3 separate regions of the Homo sapiens genome follow, and regions 2 and 3 are each linked to region 1. Evidence: fine-mapped expression QTL. A gene starts in region 1. Each other region holds a variant in brackets. All regions are shown on one strand. Distances are between the middles of the regions.

What was found. PIP is the estimated chance that this variant, and not a neighbour inherited with it, causes the effect.
Region 2: its variant is fine-mapped to the expression of RNF40 in vagina (GTEx, PIP 0.98).
Region 3: its variant is fine-mapped to the expression of RNF40 in whole blood (INTERVAL, PIP 0.91).

Annotation. Positions count from the first base shown.
Region 1 is chr16:30,759,548-30,764,874 of GRCh38, reverse strand. It overlaps RNF40 (ring finger protein 40), which reads right to left and starts at 2,553. Exons shown (of 20, transcript NM_014771.4): 1 at 2,515-2,553; 2 at 2,198-2,400; 3 at 1,590-1,757; 4 at 1,316-1,457; 5 at 490-696. The coding sequence starts at 2,329. PHKG2 (phosphorylase kinase catalytic subunit gamma 2) reads right to left here. Exons shown (of 10, transcript NM_000294.3): 10 at 3,699-5,327. It overlaps CFAP119 (cilia and flagella associated protein 119), which reads left to right and starts at 2,813. Exons shown (of 9, transcript NM_001014979.3): 1 at 2,813-3,330; 2 at 3,646-3,677; 3 at 4,207-4,269; 4 at 4,422-4,591; 5 at 5,151-5,221. The coding sequence starts at 3,127. RefSeq lists enhancers at 97-597, 598-1,098, 2,235-2,344, 2,465-2,724, 2,212-2,849 and 3 more and a silencer at 3,261-3,490.
Region 2 is chr16:31,139,222-31,144,548 of GRCh38, reverse strand. PRSS36 (serine protease 36) reads left to right here. Exons shown (of 15, transcript NM_173502.5): 7 at 712-961; 8 at 1,078-1,207; 9 at 1,556-1,812; 10 at 1,905-2,068; 11 at 2,589-2,826; 12 at 2,939-3,080; 13 at 3,792-4,057; 14 at 4,134-4,255; 15 at 5,133-5,327. Among named protein-coding and RNA genes, the nearest start is that of PRSS8, 6.2 kb to the right of the region's middle. RefSeq lists enhancers at 1,525-1,604, 3,336-3,869, 3,870-4,405, 4,687-5,327 and silencers at 1,655-2,064, 2,115-2,404. The variant A/GTTTA (reference allele first, on the strand shown) is at 3,173.
Region 3 is chr16:30,704,471-30,709,470 of GRCh38, reverse strand. It overlaps SRCAP (Snf2 related CREBBP activator protein), which reads right to left. Exons shown (of 34, transcript NM_006662.3): 5 at 2,103-2,288; 6 at 1,759-1,899. Among named protein-coding and RNA genes, the nearest start is that of SNORA30, 3.6 kb to the left of the region's middle. The variant G/A (reference allele first, on the strand shown) is at 1,919.

The sequences.
Region 1 (5,327 bases):
CTGGAGTCTGCTATATACCCAGTGTGATCCACCAGCTGTCTTGCCCATTTCTCATGACAAAGCCAGGAGTCTTTATCCCCACTGCACAGAGAAGGAAACCAGCTCAGAGAGGGGAGCCACTTTCCCAGCATGTCCAGGTGAGGGTGGCAGAACTAAGGTGGGAGAAGCCTGTCAACCTACAAGGCCTGAGCCCTTGAAGCTATGCCTTGTGGATCCGCAACCCACACCAAGTGCTCCAGAGGGGCCTCTGGCCAGGAGCCTCTACCGGCATCAACAACTCCTCCAACCCATCTCTCTAGCATTCAATCCCGGAATCAAAGTTGGAACCCCCATCTACAGCCTAACCTACCTCTTCCAAGAACATGGCTGATTTATTCCTTGGGAAATTCTGGCCGCCCTTGGACTCGGGCATTAGGGGAATCAGGAAGGGGTGCCATCAAGATGCAGGTGGGGATGGACACCCCTTCAGTATGGGCACAAAGAACCCACCTCGGCTGTACACTCGCTGACAGAGTTCCTCCACCCGGCGCTGTAGGCGGTCTGAGGCCTCTACCACACGAGACACAGCTGCCTTGGAGAACTCCATTCGGCCTTGCAGCTCCAGCTCCACCTCCTCACTGCTGCTGGCACCCAGTGCCACCACAAAAGCCAAGGCCGGCTCACTGAGAGGGGGCCGCAGCTGCATCAGCAAGGGGTCTGGAAGGAATGGACAGACCCTCATGAGGATAAGAGCAGCAGTTACTACCACTCTGTACCAAGTTCCAGACTGAGCCCTTCAATACTCATGGTTCACTTAATCAACACAACCTATAGTGCACTATTATCTCCATCCTGAAAGTGAGACAAATGAAATTCAGGGAGGTAAAGTAATTTCCTCAAAGCTACAGAGTTGCGTATCACATCCTCAGGGAAGCTTCCTGTACTTTACCAATATAATTAGAATCACACGCACATGCATGCACACACAATCATTCCGTTTCAGGAGCCCCAGTACTTTCTGCTTACTATGTTTATAATTTCCTCCCTTATAGCAAGTGCAACACTCATTTCTAGGAAGCGTCAAATACATATTTAATACTCAACCATAATACTGTTTTGAAACAAATGGGTGTCAAAACATGAATTGCTCTATAAACCAAGTTAGTCAGAGTCTAAAGCCTGTGTTTTTGTGCACTGCACTTTACTGCCCAAACATGAAATCCATTTCGTGAGAAGTAGTAAGATAGGCAATTCAGGGGCCCAACACCAAAGTCCCCTCCTCCCCAGGACTTCTCCCAGAACTTAAGCTCCCCAGATCCCAGCACTCTGGTCCTACCTCTCAGCTCTGATGTCCCCGGCTCTGGGAGAGGAGTCCCATCACATGTTGGCCCCTCCTGGGTCCCAGGTGCCTCAGGCGCTGAAGACAGCTCCCCCTGGCTCTCATGGCATCGGAGAAGGGCTTCCACAGTTTCATCCAGCTGGAAGGAGAAAACATCAAAAATGTTATGAATCCCTTAGTGCTTTCCAACATGATACTCCTTTCCTAGCAGGGGAATCTGGGGATTGGCAGCTGAATCAAGGCCTGGTCTTTGAAAGCAGAAGGTATCCACCTGGGCCCAGTAGCGATTGACGATGAGGAGTGTGGCATCATCTGTGGCCTGCCGCTTCTCCAACTTCTCAATTCGTTCTCGGAGTTCATCTTCACAAGCCTGCCGTTGTTCCAGCCGCTCTGCCAGTTTCTTGTTCTTGAACTGTAGTACCTTCAGGTCCATCTCCTCCTACCAAAGGAAACAAAGGGGCCGACGAGAGCGTCAAGCAGGGCCCACAAACCAATCACAGAGAGAGAAAGAGGAGCAGAGCATCTGCAATGCATGGGAGATGGAGGTATTCCCACACTAACCGCTAACAGAATCTAAGGAGGCTCAGACAACACACAGCGAAAGTGTCTTTGTTGTGAGGAGGCTCACGTTGTTTCTGCCTGTCCCCTTGTAAATCCTTAGTCTTTGACAAGTCACACGCCCCCTGGAAACCTGTTTTCCTATCTGTAAAGGGAAGACAGGCGTCGTGTTCTGAGCTTCTTTCTAACCTTTCTTTCAAGGTCCTGTAACGCGGACCTTGCTAAACTTGGGGAAGTGGGTGTAAGATTCCGCACAGTTTGGCCAGAGAACAGAGGGAGGGCTCTGGGAAGTTCTGAGGGTTAAGGCAAGAGCCCACGAACCGTGGAAGAGATGCCTCCAAGACGAATGGGCTCGATAAGAGTCGTGGTGGTCTTCTCCTCACGACTCAGCTTCTTTTCCGGGGGCCCTGAGCCCCCGTCGCCGGCGGCGCGTTTGTTGCCTGGCCCAGACATGGCCGCGGCGGCTGGAGCGATGCAGGGTCCCCTGAGGGGCGTCAAACGGGAGGAGGCGGTACTTCCGTCACCTGCAGAAGACACAGAGCAGAGATGTGGGAACGGCTGGTGTTCCACAGCCCCAAACACCCTCCACCCTGCACACACCTGCTGGATCCCGTCCCCCCCGGCGCCAGAGCCCTCACCAGCAGGAGGGTCAGCCTAGCGCCGCCATCTTGGATTTCACCGGACGTCACTGGGCGTCACTGGACGCCACTGCCCCCCCCCCAACGGTGCGCAGGGCGCAGGCGCCAAAGGCAGCCCCGGATGTGAGGAAACTTCTTTATCTTCTGCTTCTATTGGTTACGCTTGGTCCCGCCACTCGGGTCCTCTGGCTTCTTCCCAAACACCTCCTCTTTCTCTCGGTGATTGGCCAAGAGGCAGTTCCCATAGTAACTGACACCGCGCTCCCACTTCCCAGCCTGGAGGACAGCACCGGCCCTCGTATTAGCAACCTGGAAGAGAGGGCGCCCAGGTGGGCACTCGCAACTTCTCACGTATCTGCGCGTTCTCTTCGCTCCCACTGGCGTGAGCCTGCGCTTTCCGCCTTCCTTCCCTCACAAGCCCCCTTGGCAACCGTCGCCGTTGAGACGGAGGGAGACGCCCCCACGGATTCGCCCCGCCGCGCCTCTCCGCGCGTAGATTGGCCGGAGCGAGGCGAACGGGCCCGGCCTTGGTAGCCGCCGACCGAGCGCTGGCTGTCCTGGAACCTAGGCGGCGGGAGCCCGGGGCGCCTCGCGGCACGGAAGAGCGGCGAGATGCTCAACCGCAAGACCAGCCACTTTTTGGGAATGAGGGTGCAGTCGGAGCTTGAACATCTCTCCGAGCTGCGGCGGGAAGCGGGGAAGGATCGCAGCTCAGTGCATGGGTCGGCCGCGCGGACGCGTGCGAGTGTGCGGACTCAGTGGACGACGGCGGCGGCGGCGAAAGCGGATGAAGACCCCGGAGCCAACTTGTTTCCGGTGAGGGCGGGACAGTCTGGTCTGCTCGTGAATATTTATAAACCGGCTCCCCCGCAGGCGCCACCTGTCATTATGCTTACTAACGTTCGGGACGTCTCCCGGGCTGCTTGGGCGAGGAGAGGCAGGGGTGTGTGACCCCGGTGGTTACTGTGCTCGCGTAGAGCACCTAGGGCCTGCTGAAGCCCTCCCTCGCCCGCGCCTCTCCTTAGTCCTTGAGATGAGATGGCAAGTTACAGCGGCTTCTCCGGCCTGCTGGAGATTCGCTACGGGCCAGGACACCGCAGCTGCCTTCCCCAATTCGCTTTCTTTCCGCAGCCGCCGCTGCCCCGACCCCGGATCTGCATGTGGTGAGTGTGAAGAGACAAAAATTACACTGAATATTTGCGTTCTTTATTGTCTCCCCAACAGTCCTGTCTGTGGCCAGGGCATCCCCATTTTACAGATGAGACTGAGGCCTGGAGATGCAATTACTCCAGGTGACTGGAAGTTGGCTTTCCAGCCTCTCCAGTCCAAAGAGGAGGCAGTGTGAGAAAAAAAGAGCCAAAGACAGAATGTAAATGGAGTCTCATGGCCGCTAAGGAGTATTGTACAGAGGGGGACACTGAGGGCCACAGGGAGTACTTGACCAAGGTCATACAAGGTAGTGGCAGAGCAGAAAAAAGAATTCAAGATTCCTAACCCTAGGCTTTAGAAATGGAGAGGCTCATAAGAGTTCATTTAGGCCCAGAGAGTTAACGATTTGCATAGTCACACAGCAAGCTGGCAAAAGAGCCCAGCTTCACGCCGGTGGCCAACTCCCAGTCTCACGCACTAGCTGTCACAGCCTTGTCATGATAGGTAACGGCCACCAATACTCTTTTTCTTTTACTATAACAGGAAGTACCTGGACGTCCATTCCATGCACCAGCTGGAGAAGACCACCAATGCTGAGATGAGGGAGTAGGGACTGAGGGGGGCGTGGGAAGAGCTCTTGGCAAAGGCTGAGGGGTCAGGTTGGGAAAACATGAGGAATGGCTGACTCCAAAGCATGTGGTGGGTGTAGGGTGATGAAAGGAGGCCCAGTTGTCACTCACTCCTCTCTCCCTCCCAAGGGTGCTGGCTGAGCTGCTGGAGCTAGGGTGTCCTGAGCAGAGCCTGAGGGACGCCATCACCCTGGACCTCTTCTGCCACGCGCTCATTTTCTGCCGCCAGCAGGGCTTCTCACTGGAGCAGACGTCAGCGGCTTGTGCCCTGCTCCAGGATCTTCACAAGGCTTGTATTGGTGAGAGGGGGCAGCTACCAGGTTTGAGCCCCAGGGAGAAGAGGAACCGGGCCTGGCACAAGTGACCATGGGAAGCAGAAGCAGGGGATTTCTGCCTGGAATATGTCATTATTAGTAGCATCATCATACACAAGCCATCAGCTTTCCAATCCACTGCTTCCTTATCTAGAAATTAAGGATACAGCACACATTTTACAGGACTGTTCTGAGAAATAATATATGCAAATATATGCATAGTGCACAATAACACCTGCTTTAGAATGTTTAATAGCTCTTGCTTCAGAATGTTTAATAGCTGAAATGATCTATTTCTTGGTTTATTCCCCTAGAATATAAGCTTCGTAAGGGCAGGACCTTGTCTGTCTTGTTCAGTGCCGAAAACCATACAGTGGGCATATAGTGGGTATTCAGTATTTGTTACATGAGTTAAGGAAACAAGCCAGTGCTGAAACCCAGATCTGTCTGCTTCTGAAGCTCATGGTCATAAACAGCTGTTGAGTGAAGTGAATGAATGGATACCAGAGAGGGCCTCACTGCTGCATCTTGCTTTCCCTACCAGCAACCCCCTTGGGCAACGTGGAGGAGTGCTACCGCTACTTCACCAGTGTCCTTTTTTGCCATGGAGTCAGGGTCAGTTCCCCTGGAACATTCTGGAAACTTTACCCATCCCCAGACAAGGTCTCACCCAGTCTCTCTCACATTCATCACCCTTATCTTCTTGTGAAGACCCCAGTGG
Region 2 (5,327 bases), 380 kb before region 1:
ATCACTTGAGCCCAGGAGTCTGAGACCAGCCTGAGCAACATAGTGATACCTCATCCCAAAAAAAGAGACAAACTGGCTGGGCACAATGGCTCACGCCTGTAATCCCAGCACTTTAGGAGACCGAGGCACGTGGATCACTTGAGGTCGAGAGTTTGAGACCAGCCTGGCCAACATGGCAAAAACCCATCTCTACCAAAAATACAAAAATTAGCCGGCTGTGGTGGTGTACACCTGTAGTCCCAGCTACTCGGGAAGCTGAGGCAGGAGAATCACTTGAACCCGGGAGGCAGAGGTTGCAGTGGGCTGAGGTTGCACCACTGCACTCCAGCCTGGGAGACAGAGCGAGATTCCGTCTCAAAAAAGAAAAGAAAGAAAGAAAAAGAAAGGGAAGGAAAGAAGGAAGGAAGGGAGGGAGGGGAATTATTTGAGCTAGTAACAACAAGAATCACTTGGCTCTAATGACAACTGCAGGATTATCTTGTGTGGCTTTGAATGCACTCCCCTGGTGCTCTTGGCTCTGGCTGCCATCGGCCTTCTGCTTACAGGGATTTCTTCTGTTTAGAGCCGCAGGGAATGCAGAGGACAAGGCCTAGCCAAGGAGGGTTTCTAGGAGAAGGGAGAAGGTGGTGTATGTTGGGCCAAAAGGAGGTGCAGGACCTTTTCGAGTAGGTCCCTGGGCTGACCCCTTGACATGCAGTCATCTGCCACTAGGGTGACTCTGGGGGGCCCCTGGTCTGTGAGGAAGGCGGCCGCTGGTTCCAGGCAGGAATCACCAGCTTTGGCTTTGGCTGTGGACGGAGAAACCGCCCTGGAGTTTTCACTGCTGTGGCTACCTATGAGGCATGGATACGGGAGCAGGTGATGGGTTCAGAGCCTGGGCCTGCCTTTCCCACCCAGCCCCAGAAGACCCAGTCAGATCCCCAGGAGCCCAGGGAGGAGAACTGCACCATTGCCCTGCCTGGTGAGTGGGCGGCACCCCTGGATGTAAGCGGGACATGGGAGAGTGAGTTGGGATGGAGACTGCTGGGAGTGATTGGGTTGCAGGAGGCCCACTGACCCAGGCCTCTCACCCCTCAGAGTGCGGGAAGGCCCCGCGGCCAGGGGCCTGGCCCTGGGAGGCCCAGGTGATGGTGCCAGGATCCAGACCCTGCCATGGGGCGCTGGTGTCTGAAAGCTGGGTCTTGGCACCTGCCAGCTGCTTTCTGGAGTGAGTGAAAATCTACGTTTCAAGCCGATCCTTGCCCCTCCCTACAGCCTGAGATACCATCCATTCGGCCCCAGCCCCTCCCCAGGGGGTGTGGGGGGGGCGGGGTCCCATTCGGAGGTGTAGGATCCAGCACAAAAAGAGGGGTCCTGGCCTGGCAGGGGTGGGTAGAGGCATGGTAGATAGAAGTTCGATCCCGGAGGCGGGGGTGTGAGTGAGCTGTTGGAATGGGGGTGTCGTGGGGATCCCGCCAGGATGCAGGATCCTCGCCTGGCAAGTCTAAGCCGGGGTGTGAGGTTTCCAGCCACGTGTGCGGGATCCGGCCCACGTCCCTCGGCCCCCATCCCGCAGCCCGAACAGCTCCGACAGCCCACCCCGCGACCTCGACGCCTGGCGCGTGCTGCTGCCCTCGCGCCCGCGCGCGGAGCGGGTGGCGCGCCTGGTGCAGCACGAGAACGCTTCGTGGGACAACGCCTCGGACCTGGCGCTGCTGCAGCTGCGCACGCCCGTGAACCTGAGCGCGGCTTCGCGGCCCGTGTGCCTACCCCACCCGGAACACTACTTCCTGCCCGGGAGCCGCTGCCGCCTGGCCCGCTGGGGCCGCGGGGGTGAGCTGGGGACCGGCGCTGGGCCGGGCGGCACCGGGCGGTGCAGGGGCCGTCTGGGCCGCAGCGCGGGCTCCCTGCCTTTTCCCTTCCAGAACCCGCGCTTGGCCCAGGCGCGCTGCTGGAGGCGGAGCTGTTAGGCGGCTGGTGGTGCCACTGCCTGTACGGCCGCCAGGGGGCGGCAGTACCGCTGCCCGGAGACCCGCCGCACGCGCTCTGCCCTGCCTACCAGGAAAAGGAGGAGGTGGGCAGCTGCTGGGTAAGCGGCGGGGGCGGGGCCCGCGGAACGCGGGCCCGAGAGGGCTCTAGGAAGAGGGCGGGGCCTGTGGAAGGCGAGTCCAAGTGGGCTCTAGGGAGAGGGCGGGGCCTGCGGAAGGCGGGTCCGAGTGGGCTCTAGGGAGGGAGCGGGGCCTGGGGAAGGCGGGTCCGAGTGGGCTCTAGGAAGGGGCGGGGCTTGCGGAACTGGGAATGGGGCGGAGCCGGGGTGGAAGCGGGGCCAGAACGAGCTGGGGGTGGGGCCTGCCCCTAGAGAACTTTTGGGAGGGAGCTGAGGCGGGCTCTGAGCTGGTGCTATGGTTTCTCTCTATCTCTGGATTTAAGGAGAATCTTAAAGTGAGGGCTGAATTCTTACACAAATTAGTATTTGGAGTCTGATTTGGAGAAGGTGGAACTTGATACTTCCGCAAATGGGAAAATCTGGAGTCCTGGAAAGCCCCAGGAGCTCTGATATTCTCTGCACACACGCAGAGGCAAGTAACACACACACTTTGTTGCTGCAGAATGACTCGCGTTGGAGCCTTTTGTGCCAGGAGGAGGGGACCTGGTTTCTGGCTGGAATCAGAGACTTTCCCAGTGGCTGTCTACGTCCCCGAGCCTTCTTCCCTCTGCAGACTCATGGCCCATGGATCAGCCATGTGACTCGGGGAGCCTACCTGGAGGACCAGCTAGCCTGGGATTGGGGCCCTGATGGGGAGGAGACTGAGACACAGACTTGTCCCCCACACACAGAGCATGGTGGTGAGCAGGACGCTTTTGGGCCCTAGGGGCTCCTGGGAGTGCACAGACCCATGGCAGGGGCTCAGGGGTCAGCCATGGGGCCCCAACTGAGGTGGCCACCTCCTCTCCCTAGCCTGTGGCCTGCGGCTGGAGGCTGCTCCAGTGGGGGTCCTGTGGCCCTGGCTGGCAGAGGTGCATGTGGCTGGTGATCGAGTCTGCACTGGGATCCTCCTGGCCCCAGGCTGGGTCCTGGCAGCCACTCACTGTGTCCTCAGGTGGGTCTCACTCGTCTCCTAGGCGAGAGACGGGAGGGGAGAATGGAACAGAGCCAAAGACTTGTTTTTGTTATTTGTTTGTTTGTTTGTTT[A/GTTTA]AAAAAAATTAACAATGAGATCTTGCTGTGTTGCCCAGGCCAGCCTCAAGCAATCCTCCTGCCTTGGCCAACGTACTAAGATTACAGGCATGAGCCACTGTGCCTCACCCAAAGGACTCTTAAAATAGTGGGATATTCTCCTTTAAGCATCTTACAGCTGGGCGCAATGGTTCACACCTGTAATCCTAGCACTTTGGGAGGCCGAGGCGGGCAGATCATGAGGTCAGGAGTTCAAGACGAGCCTGGCCAACATGGTGAAACCCCTCTACTAAAAATACAAAAATTAGCCAGGGGTGGTGGCAGGCGCCTGTAACCCCAGCTACGTGGGAGGCTGAGGCAGGAGAATCGCTTGAACCCAGGGAGGGCAGAGGTTGCAGTGAGCCAAGATTGCGCCACTGCACTCCAGTCGGAGCGACAGAGCAAGACTCTGTCTGGGGTGGGGCATGAGGGAAGAATCTTACAGCACTGGGAGATGTTTTGACCTAGAAGGGAGATTTGGAAGGAGGGATGATGAAGGAGTGAGTGGCATGACCCCAGAGAGTCATCCTTCCCCTGGGCTGGGAAGGACTTTGCCAGCAATGGGAGGAGCAGAAGGTGACATTGGACCTTGTTCCAACAGGCCAGGCTCTACAACAGTGCCTTACATTGAAGTGTATCTGGGCCGGGCAGGGGCCAGCTCCCTCCCACAGGGCCACCAGGTATCCCGCTTGGTCATCAGCATCCGGCTGCCCCAGCACCTGGGACTCAGGCCCCCCCTGGCCCTCCTGGAGCTGAGCTCCCGGGTGGAGCCCTCCCCATCAGCCCTGCCCATCTGTCTCCACCCGGCGGGTATCCCCCCGGGGGCCAGCTGCTGGGTGTTGGGCTGGAAAGAACCCCAGGACCGAGGTGAGACCCCTGGGTCACGGGAACGAGGAGTAGCTGGAGGCCAGAGCCCTGGAACAACTTTGTCTCCTCTCCCCAGTCCCTGTGGCTGCTGCTGTCTCCATCTTGACACAACGAATCTGTGACTGCCTCTATCAGGGCATCCTGCCCCCTGGAACCCTCTGTGTCCTGTATGCAGAGGGGCAGGAGAACAGGTGTGAGGTACAGGGGCCTGGGCGTCCTGGAGTAGGCAGGGGAGAGGCAGTGTTGGACTACTGTACCCTAGAGAGATAGCAGAATTGGAATTTTTTTTTTTTTTTTTTTTTGAGACAGAGTCTCACTCTGTCCCCCAGCTGGAGTGCAGTGGCGCGATCTCGGCTCACTGCAAGCTCCACCTCCCTGGTTCATGCCATTCTCCTGCCTCAGCCTCCCGAGTAGCTGGGACTACAGGCACCCGCTACTACGCCCGGCTAATTTTTTGTATTTTTAGTAGAGACGGGGTTTCACTGTGTGAGCCAGGATGGTCTTGATCTGATCTCGTGATCCGCCGGCCTCGGCCTCCCAAAGTGCTGGGATTAGAGGTGTGAGCCACTGCGCCCGGCCAAGGAATTTTTTTTTTTTTTTTTTTTTTTTTTTGAGACTGAGTCTCGCTCTGGTACCCAGGCTGGAGTGCAGTGGTGTGATCTTGGCTCACTGCAACCTCCACCTCCCAGGTTCAAGAGATTCTCCTGCCTCAGCCTCCCTAGTAGCTGGGATTACAAGCATGCACCACCACACCTGGTTAATTTTTGTATTTTTAGTAGAGACAGGGTTTCACCATGTTGGCCAAGCTGGACTCAAACTCCTCACCTCAAATGATCCGCCCACCTTGGCTTCCCAAAGGGTTGGGATTAGAGGTGTGAGCCACTGCACCTGGCCAGGATTGGAATTATTGGGTATTTGGCCCCAAATGGGACCCTAGCTGGACCCGGGAGAGAAACCAGGGACCTGGATGTCTAGGGATGCAGACCAGAGTGCTTCGTGGCCAGACCCTGGGGAAAGGGGGAGGGGACCAAGAGGAAGGGCAGCAGACCCACGTGGCCTCGCTCCAACTCTGCAGATGACCTCAGCACCGCCCCTCCTGTGCCAGATGACGGAAGGGTCCTGGATCCTCGTGGGCATGGCTGTTCAAGGGAGCCGGGAGCTGTTTGCTGCCATTGGTCCTGAAGAGGCCTGGATCTCCCAGACAGTGGGAGAGGCCAACTTCCTGCCCCCCAGTGGCTCCCCACACTGGCCCACTGGAGGCAGCAATCTC
Region 3 (5,000 bases), 55 kb after region 1:
TTATTTATGTACTTTTACCCGATGTTTAGGGAGACCTTCTTTAACCAGATCCTGGGCTGGCCTCTTAGGAAAGTAAAACTAAATAACCTTAGGGGCTCACTATGGTCTAAAGGAAGCACAAAGGGAGCATGCAGGAAGAAGAGCCAGCTTCGCCTCAGGTGGAGGGAAGGTTTGCAATCTGAAGCTGGATTTTTTTTTTTTTTTAAAGAGATGAGATCTCACTATGTTGGCCAGACTAGTGTCAAACTCCTGGGCTCAAATGATCCTCCTGCCTCACCCTCCCACGTAGGTGGAACTACAGGCATGCATCACCACACCCAGCTGGAACTGGGTCTCAAAAAATAGGTAGGTGGGCCAGGCACAGTGGCTCATGCCTGTATTCTCAGCACTTTGGAAGGCTGAAGTGGGAGGATCACGTGAGGTCAGGAGTTCGAGACCAGCCTGACCGACATGGTGAAACCCCCATCTCTACTAAAAATAAAAAATTAGCCAGGCGTGGTGGCGGGCACCTGTAAACTCAGCTACTCCGGAGGCAGAGGCAGGAGAATCGCTTGAACCTGGGAGGCAGAGGTTGCAGTAAGCCCAGATTGCACCACTGCACTCCAGCCTGGGAACAAAGCGAGACTCCGTCTCAAAAACAAAAAAACAGGTAGGTGAAGCCAGGCATAGTGGCTCACACTTTGGGAGGCCAAAGTGAGAGGATCGCTTGAGCCTAGGAATTCAAGATCAGCTTGGTATGTAACAGCGAGACCTTGTCTCCACAAAAAAATATTTTTAGGCCAGGTGCGGTGGCTCACGTCTATAATCCCAGCACTTTGAGAGGCTGGGGCGAGTGGATAACCTGAGGTCAGGAGTTCAAGACCAGCCTGGCCAACACAGCAAAACCCTGTCTCTACTAAAAATACAAAAATTAGCCAGACATAGTGGCACATGCCTGTAATCCCAGCTACTCCAGAGCCTGAGGCAGGAGAATCACTTGAGCCTGGGAGGCAGAGGTTGCAGTGAGCCAAGATTGCGCCACTGCCCTAGGTGACGGGGTGAGACTCTGTTTCACAAAAAAATTAAAAAAAAAGAAATTAAAAAGAATTTTTTTAATTAGCAAGATGTGGTAGCACGCGCCTGTAGTCCCAGATACTTGGGAGATCGAGGCAGGAAGATCGCGTGAGCCCAGGAGGTTGAGGATGCAGTGAGCTGTGATCGTACCACTGCACTCCAGCCTAGGAGACACAGCAAGACTCTGTCCAAGACAATTAAAAAATAGGTGGCTGTTCCCTAAGTACACATGAGGAAAAAAGCATTCCCAGCAGCATAAAGTCTATGTGTAAATGGACAGAGATATACAAAAGAAAGGTGGGTGTGGAGTGGAAGGGAGAAGGAATGAACATGGCAGGAGGCAAGACCGAAAATACAGACGGAAACTGGGTAGTACTTAAGAAATAATTACAACTTACTATACAGGCAGTGGGAACTTTGACGGAATTTAAGCATGTGCTAAGTGGCACAAATACATTTCAGTAAACACATGCTAAATGCCCTGCAAGGGACAGATGGCCTAGAGGTGTCAAGGAGAACTATTAACAATCCCCAAAGGCAGGACCCATATTTTGCCACTATACTTTTTTATCCATACAACATAAACGTCATTAGAGTTGCCTGAAATTATATTTACTCCCTCAAGAAGTTTTGATCATTCCTACTACCACGCCATCTACCAATCTAATCCAAGGCCATTTTCCTTTCCTGATCCCCACTGTCTACCTTCTCCACATTGCTCCAGAACTGCCTGACATCCTTGGCCATGGTGGAAGCAATTCGACGCAGCTTGGCCTGCTCCTCCCTCCGGGCCCGTTCCTCTTTCTGCCGCTGCTCCTCGTGGTGCCGGATCACCATGCGCACCACCTGTGGGAATGAAGACCCA[G/A]GGTGAAAACACTCAAAGCCAGACTTCCCCACCCAAAGGCAAAGAAAATAATCAAGGCCAAGAAATCTGGAAAATCAAGAGTTTGCTCTTAATGCCTACACCATTCTGTCTGGTCCCCTTCCAACAAACCGGGAAGGAACAGACCTGAAAAGGAAAAGGAAGGAAGTCCCAGCGGAAGACCTACCTTCCGGGCCACACCCCGTTTCCAACGGCGCTCCTGAGCAAAGTCAGCAGAGAGCCACTGCATCTCTTCGCACAAATAGTCCCAGTGACCTTTGGGGCGAGGGGGCTCTGGCACCTTAGGCAGCCTCTTCAGTGACCAGAAACCCTCCTTCCGCAGCTCAGCAATCCGAGTCTCGATCTCGGCCTCCTAATCAGGGAGAGCCAGATCAATCAACAGTTCTAAACACACACTCCATCTCACTGCCACGGCTGAATTCCTGAGCACTAAGTGGGCTGAGTGTGTTATGCTTATGTTTAGTCCACATACCAAACTTACAGGCAGGTATCATACTCTCTTCAGAGAAGGGAAAAAAGATCAGGGAGATGAAGAAGGAAAAAAGATCAGGGAGATTAAGTGATTTGCCCAAGATCACACAGCTAGAAAGTAATAGAAAATGTGAATCAAAAATAGGTCTGAGGACTCCAGACAGCAAATTTCATGCTCTTTCCATTATTTAACACAATCTCCACACCCCATAGACATAGGAGAGACTTGGGAAATCATATCCCAAGAGGAGCTTCCCAGAGGAGTAGGGAACACATACTTCCCTCTTGATTCTAGATACAAGGGGTCATCATCATTGTAGAATTCTACTTACTCAGAGTATTTTCATGATGCATTAAGCTTAGAAATATGCTATAATGCCCAACTGACACACTGTTGTTTTTAAAAATACTACTTTTGTAAAAATGCATATGTTTATGTAAAAAATACTGAAACGTTATACGTGAAATGTTTAACACTGATTAGGTGTAAAAAAGAGTGGTCATTTTTACTAAAGCTTCTACACTGATTGTCTTTTATTTAAAAAGCATTTAAAATTTTTTTGACAGAGACGACTCAAAAAATTCAGGACAACTGCCTTATTTCTTTTTCTGAATCTCACTCAGAAATCTGAGTGAGATTTTTCTGGGTCTCACTCTGCTGCCTAGGCTCAGGTTATCTTCCCAACTCAGCCTCCCAACTCAGCCTCCCAGGTAGCTGAGACTGACTATAGGCACATGCAACCATGCCCAGCTAATTTTTTTGTATTTTTCGTAGGGGCGAGGTTTCACAATGTCAAGGCTGGTCTGGAACTCCTGGGTTTAAGCAATCCGCCTGCCTGGGATTCCCAAAATGCTCAGATTATAGGCGAAAACCACCGCACCCAGCCTCTGTCTTTGTTATTTCTGTCCTCTCCTGATAAAAACTAAATCAGAGAAAATGACAGCCAGAGACCAGACAGGACTAAATGGCCTGACAGTGAAGGAAACATCAAGAAAGACGTGGATATTAGACCAGCTGCTCTCAAACTTGAGGAGGCACCGGAATCATCTGGAGGACTTTTAGAAACAGGTTGTGCTCACACCTGTAATCCCAGCACTTTGGGAGGCCAAGGCGGGTGGATCACAAGGTCAGGAGATCGAGACCATCTTGGCTAAAACGGTGAAACCCCGTGTCTACTAAAAACACAAAAAATTAGCCAGGCATAGTGGCGAGCGCTTAGTCCCAGCTACTCGGGAGGCTGAGGCAGGAGAATGGCGTGAACCCAGGAGGCGGAGCTTGCAGTGAGCCGAGATCATGCCACTGCACTCCAGCCTCAGCGAAAGACTGAGACTCCGTCTCAAGGAAAAAAAAAAAAACCCAATTGTGGCCGGGCGCAGTGGCTCATGCCTGTAATCCCAGCACTTTCAGAGGCCGAGGCTGGCAGATCACAAGGTCAAGAGATCAAGACCATCCCGCCAACATGGTGAAACCCCATCTCTACTAAAAATACAAAAAATTTAGCCGGGTGTGATGGCGGGCGCCTGTAGTCCTAGCTACTCAGGAGGCTGAGGCCAGAGAATGGCTGTGAACCCGGGAGGCGGAGCTTGCAGTGAGCCAAAATTCTGCCACTGCACTCCAGCCTGGGCGACAGAGCGAGACTCCGTCTCAACAAAATAAATAAATAAAATAAAAATAAAAATAAAAAATAAAAACATTGCTGGGCCCTACCCTCATAGTTTCAAATGGGTCGGTGGGTGAGAGGTACCAAGAATTTGCATTTTTTTTTGAGACAGAGTCTCACTGTTACCCAGGCTGGTGTGCAGTGGCATCATCTCAGGTCACTGCAACCTCCGGTTCCCAGTTCAAGCAATTTCCCTGCCTCAGCTTCCTGAGTAGCTAGGACTACAGGCCTGCGCCACCACGCCAGGCTAATTTTTGTATTTTTAGCAGAGATGGGATTTTGCCACGTTGGCCAGGCTGGTCTCGAACTCCTGACCTCAGGTGATCCACCCGCCTCGGCCTCCCAAAGTGCTGGGATTACAGGCATGAGCCACCACGCCCGGCAAAGAATTTGTGTTTCTACTAAGTTCCCAGGTGATGCTGATGCTGCTGGCCCAGAGACCACACTTACCACTGGATAAATGTAATACAGACTGCACGATAGAAATAAATAGAAACCAGTAAATCTTAAGAGCATCACAGTTTACAAAGTGCTTTTGTGTCTATTTTCTCCTTTTTTTTTGAGACAGGATCTTACTCGGTTGCTCAGGCTGGAGTGCAGTGGCATAATCGTGGCTCACTGCAGCCCTGACCTCCTGGGCTCAGGTGATCCTCTCAACTCAGGCTCCTGGGTGGCTGCGACTGCTACAGGCATGTGCGACTATACCCAGCTAATTTTTTGTACTTTTTACAGAGATGGGGTTTTACCACATTGCCCAGTCTGGTCTTGAACTCCTGGGCTCAAGAGATCTGCCTGTCTCAGCCTCCCAAAGTGCCAGGATTACAGGTGTGAGCCACTGCGCCTGGCCTTGCTCCTATAACTTAAACCTCTTAATAGCCTATAAACTATTATATCATTCCTATTTTATTTACAGCAAGGAAAATGAGACTCAA